Linked DNA regions of Homo sapiens: region 2 is linked to region 1. The links come from fine-mapping of genetic effects on gene expression. Tissue or cell type: subcutaneous fat. Region 1 holds a variant in brackets; the other region holds the start of a gene. All regions are shown on one strand. Distances are from middle to middle.

Evidence for each region.
Region 2: RALGPS2 starts here. The variant in region 1 is fine-mapped to the expression of RALGPS2 in subcutaneous fat (GTEx, PIP 0.94). The same link has a PIP of 0.9 or more in thyroid.

The regions. Positions count from the first base shown.
Region 1 is chr1:178,693,628-178,696,545 of GRCh38, forward strand. No RefSeq gene overlaps it. Among named protein-coding and RNA genes, the nearest start is that of MIR4424, 17 kb to the left of the region's middle. The variant A/T (reference allele first, on the strand shown) is at 1,589.
Region 2 is chr1:178,723,608-178,726,525 of GRCh38, forward strand. It overlaps RALGPS2 (Ral GEF with PH domain and SH3 binding motif 2), which reads left to right and starts at 1,637. Exons shown (of 20, transcript NM_152663.5): 1 at 1,637-1,812. It overlaps RALGPS2-AS1 (RALGPS2 antisense RNA 1), which reads right to left and starts at 2,677. Exons shown (of 1, transcript NR_187252.1): 1 at 1-2,677. RefSeq lists silencers at 1,411-1,565, 1,467-1,636, 1,897-2,016, 2,217-2,446 and an enhancer at 1,987-2,576.

The DNA of each region.
Region 1 (2,918 bases):
GGAATTTCTGGAGAGAATTACCATTTCTCTCCAAAAGTTAAAAAAAAAGAAAGAAAGAAAGAAAGAAAAGTATTTGCCCTCTTCTCTTTCCTCCAGGACACTCTTCATAATTCTCTTCAAGGGCCTTGGGATTTTTACAAAACCCAAGAGGAGGCTTTGACTCTATTGCTGGTAAATTTTGCCTGGGAAAAATCCCCAGTCCCAGGAAAGCAATGGAAGATGTACTTTCTCCCATTGAGAGAAACTGGGAACCCACTCAAAATAGGGAGAAGTGAAAAATATTGAAAATGCAAATTAATATGAATGGAATGAGGTAGAGGGTATAAGGGAGTAGAATATAAAATGGTGTGTGCGTGGTGATATTTGACAGACACTGCCAAATTCTTGCTCTCTGCATTTCTTTGATTTGTTTGGTTTATTTTTTTAATTAGTATTTATTTATTTATTTATTTTTATTTATATTTGAGACAGTTTCCCCTCTGTCTCCCAGGCTGGAGTGCAGTGACATGATTTTGGCTCCACTGTAAGCTCTGCCTCTCGAGCTCGAACGATTCTCCTGCCTCAGATTCAGACTCCTTTCCTCTCCTCTCCTCTCCTCTCCTCTCCTCTCCTCTCCTCTCCTCTCTTCTACTTTCCTTTCCTTTTTTTTGAGATGGAGTCTTGCTGTGTTGCCCAGGAGTGCAATGGTGCAATCTCAGCTCACTGCAACCTCCGCCTCCCAGGCTCAAGCGATTCCCCTATCTCAGCCTCTCAAGTAGCTGGGATTACAGGTGCCTGCCACCATGCCCAGCTAATTTTTGTATTTTTAGTAGAGACAGGGTTCCACCATTTTGGCCAGGCTAGTCTCGAACTCCTGACCTCAAGTGATCCACCCGTCTCGGCCTCCCAAAGTGCTGGGATTACAGATGTGAGTCACTACGCCCAGCTTAGCCTCCTGATCATGCCTCAGCCTCCCAAGTAGCTGGGATTGTAAGAGTACGCTGCCATGACTGGCTAATTTTTGTATTTTTAGTAGAAACAGGGTTTTGCCATGTTAGCCAGGCTGGTCTTGAACTCCTGGCCTCAAGTGATCTGCCAGCCTCGGCCTCCCAACGTGCTGAGATTACAGGCATGAGCCACTGCGCCCAGCCTATTTGTTTATTTTTTGAGACAGGGTCTCAGTCTGTCACCTAGGCTGGAGTGCAGTGGCAGGATCTCAGTTCATTGCAATCTCTGCCTCCCAGGCTCAAGGATCCTCCCACTTCAGCTTCCAGAGTAGCTGAGACTGCAGGCATGTGCCACCACACCCAGTTCATTTTTGTATTTTTTTGTAAAGATGGGGTTTGCCATATTGCCCAGGCTGGCCTCAAACTCCTGGGCTCAAGCAATCAACCTACCTTGGCCCACAAGTGCTGGGAACACAGGCATGAGCCTTCGCTCCCAACCTGTTTATTTTATTTTTTTTTAAGACATGGGGTCTCACTATGTTGCCCAGGTTGGACAGTAGTGACTATTCACAGGTGCCATTATAGTGCACTACACTTTGAACTCCAGGTCTCAAGGGATCCTCTTAACTCAGCATTCTGAGTAGCTGGGACTACAGGCACAT[A/T]CCACCAAATCTGGCTGCATTCCTTTTAGGGAGGCTAAGCAAATCAGATCATTCTCTTTCCAAGACCTTCTTTTTGCAAAGTCCACCACAACTGGTTAGTTTAGGCTTTGTCAGTTGCAAACAAACATGGAGGTTTCTTTAATCAGGATGACCTGATGCAACTGAGGATGACCTGAGGTCATCCTGATTAAACGTGAGAGTATTTTTGGACACTTGACTAAATCTTTAATAAATATTGAGTGGATTGAAGAGAATACTAACTATGTAAAAGGGATAGATAGATAGATAGATAGATAGATAGATAGATAGATAGATAGATGATAGATAGATAGTTGATAGATAGATGATAGATAGATAGATAGATAGATAGATAGATAGATAGATGATAGATAGATAGATAGATAGATAGATAGATGATAGATAGATAGATAGATGATAGATAGATGATAGATAGATAGATAGATGATAGATAGATAGATGATAGATAGATAGATAGATGATAGATGATAGATAGATAGATAGATGATAGATAGATGATAGATAGATAGATGATAGATAGATAGATGATAGATAGATAGATGATAGATAGATAGATAGATGATAGATAGATAGATAGATAGATAGATAGATAGATAGATAGATGATAGATAGATAGATGATAGATAGATAGATAGATAGATAGATGATAGATAGATAGATAGATGATAGATAGATAGATAGATAGATGATAGATAGATGATAGATAGATAGATAGATAGATAGATAGATAGATAGATGATAGATAGATAGATAGATGATAGATAGATAGATGATAGATAGATAGATGATAGATAGATAGATAGATGATAGATAGATGATAGATAGATGATAGATAGATAGATAGATAGATGATAGATAGATAGATAGGTAGATAGATAGATAGATAGATGATAGATAGATAGATAGATGATAGATAGATAGATGATAGATAGATAGATGATAGATAGATAGATAGATGATAGATAGATAGATGATAGATAGATAGATAGGTAGATAGATAGATGATAGATGATAGATAGATGATAGATAGATGATAGATAGATGATAGATAGATAGATAGATGATAGATAGATGATAGATGATAGATAGATAGATAGATAGATTAGATAGATAGAGTAGATAGATAAGATAGATAGATTGGTAGATTGGGCTGGGCGCAGTGGCTCACGGCTGTAATATTAACACTTTGGAAGGCAAGGCAGACGGATCACCTAAGGTCAGGAATTCAAGACAAGCCTGGCCAACATGGTGAAACCCTGTCTTCACTAAAAATACAAAAATTAGCCGGGCA
Region 2 (2,918 bases), 30 kb after region 1:
TAATTGTATGACATTTAACAACATAAGAGTTCCGTTCCTCAGTTTTCATATTTCTTAAGAGCAGTTAATTATGTGTGATAATGGTATGTATGTTGCATGTATTATTGTTGGCATATAGCCAACGACATTTTCCTTAATCTCTTAGTAACACTTTAAGAAGACTAAACATTTACCCAACTCAATAACTGGAAGGGGTTTTTCCTCCAAGTGCTAATTCATTTAGTTGTTGTTTATTTGGGACTTGAAGCAACTAACATCTATGCGAAAACTTTCTGTATACATAATGCACTTCCCTCCTTTTTACCAATCATCTTCCTTTTTCTTTTCTTTTTTGGACTCTTGTCATTTGAAATATTGGGTGGGGGGGAACGCTTTTTTTCTTCTTTTGATTGCTCTACTTCTTCTAGTGATTTCGTCATGATTCAAGACTTTCTTTGAAAGTAAAATGGAATAAAAATGAAACACTACGAACTTTGTTGCCTATCCTCGCTGTTTTTCTTTTTGACTTAACTTTGCGTTGGGGTGCTTTAAAGTAACCCTATTTGAGAGAAGGAGGTTGAAGGGCATTCTAGCGTCCCCAACTAGAGTAAAAGGGCTATGACAGAAGGCAATCAAAGGAGGAAATAATTAGCAATCTTCAACGTTCAAGATTAATCAGTTCTGTTTAGCGGTTATTAAAGGGAAGAAAGAAACCAAATGGGAATAGTGAATTATTGGTCCTTTCATGTTTTACACTTAATGCTGGTACATAGTATTCTTTCCACATTCTACTGCACATTGCCTAGAGAAAGAACTGCAGATCATCAAATAATTATCCATTTCCAAATGGTCTAATGACAGCAGATACAAAGGCGGCTCACTTAAAACCTTCCGTTAACAGTCACACTGCATCAAATGGTGCTAGCTTTAAGTAGGCCACCCATTTAGTAGACTCTGAAACAACACCTTTCCGCCCAATTTCTGTCATTTGCTCCTTAAGTCAAGGGTAGTACCCTGCGTAACATCTTACAAAGGCCTACTTCTAACACTTCCCGAATCTTAATGTGTGAGGATGTTGATCACCATAATTTATGACCTTATCTAAGACAGTGGGGTGACTCTCCACATTGGGAGCCCCCTCATTTGTCCTCAGTGACTTCTAAAAACACCGCTGGCGTGGGCTGGATATTTGATCTTGGGGCCAAGTGCTTCCAGACTTTGTTCTCTGGCCTTAAAGGTGAAGAGCCCGGCGCTGAAGGCCACAGACATCACGGCGGATTTCACAGAGGGCCGCGTTCCGGGAGCGGGTGGCCAGGCGGTGGCGGACGCCCCACCTGTCCATCCTCCTACCCCTTCCCCCCCCCGTTGTTTGGCCGGTGGGAGCCCCTCCTTTCAGCAGGCGCCGGGCGGTGGGGTTGCGGATGGCTGCGCGCGCTGCGGGCACCGATCACCGGCGGCAGTTGGGCTCCGCGGGGCCGAAAAGCTGCGGGCGGGAAGCGCGAGGTTAAGACCCTGACGGCTGCAGCTCTCAGAGCCCCCGCGAGCGCGCTCCGTTGGTGCGCGCGCGCGCGCGGCTCCGCCCCGCCCGCTTGGCGCGCGCCCCCGCCAGGTCCGCTCTCGTCCCCCACCCCTGGCGCGGACGGGGTGGTTCCAGCTCACTCTCCTCCCCCGAGCGGCAGCGGCGGCGGCGGCGGCGGCTGCTGCGGGCGCTGAATGAGAGACGGTGACTGTTCGGGTCGACGAGTGCTACTCTAGGCGGCGGCGGCCGTGGCGGTGAAGCGTGAGGCCGGCATCGTCTTTCCGTCCTCTGAGGCGACGGCCGCGGCTGCACAGGTCGGTGGGCTCAGGCCGCGGGGCGGTGCGGGGGAGGGAGGGAGGGAGGGTGGGTACGCGGCGCCCCCCGGGCGGCGCGGGGAATGGCGGCGGCGGCGCTGCGGAGTGTGGCTCTCCCGGCCGCGGGCCCCGGGGCTGCTCGCCCTGCGCGCAGGGAGGGGGCTGCGGAGCTGGGGCTGAGGCTGAGGGAGAAGGGCGCTGGGCGGCGCGCCTCCCTCGGCCGCGGGTTCTCAGAGTCGGAGCGGCCGTGGGGTCCCCGCTCGGGGGCGCCGTCCTGAAGCCGGGGGCGCTGCGACCCCTTGAACCCGCCTCGCTCTCCCTCTTGGGTGGCGGAAGCCCCCAGCCTCCGCCCGCTCTGTTCTGGCGCCCAGCGGCGCCTCAGTCTTCCTTCAGGTGAGCCCGATCCCGGACCTCGGAGCCAGGACCAGCAGAAGCCGGGCCACACCCCCTCCCCTGGCCCTGGCGGCTGCGCCCAGAAGCCTGGCCGCAGAGTTGGCCGCCCGCGAACCCGCGGAGTCGCGGTCAGGGTGACCTGTTGCAGAGCGGCCCGCAGCCCGAGCGGCCCCCGCCAGCCCCGGCCCCGGAGGGGCTGCGTCCTGTGCTGGCCTCGGGCCGGGCGCGCGGGCCGGGTGTGGGGCAGGGGCCGCAGCCCCAGGTCGGCTTGCTCTACGGCCTGGAACCGGGCTCTAGAAAAAAAAGGAGATTCCGAACGTATCTCATCAAACACTTGCAAAGCCGGGAGATCTGTCTGCAAATATCCGGAATTCCATTGCAGTATCGGATTAGGTAGGCTCATAAACACCGTGCTTTTGAGGTGATTTGGAAGAAACGCGAGCCACGAGCGAGGAACTAGTTTCTGGAAAATAGCCGTAAACCTGTGCGGAGCGAATTATTAACCCCCCGCCCCAGCTCCCCCCTCGAAGCTCTTTTCCTGTAGCTGTGTGTTGTGTAGACGCAAGCCAGTTTCAGTGTACGTGGGCGTGTTTGGGAAGAAGCTGCGAGCTGATAGGAGGTACCTAGTACAAATGTTAATTTGTTTGAGTTGGGAGGGGTAAGGGAGGAGGAAGAAAGGGCACTGATGTTAGCTGTGGAGGAGGGGCAATTGA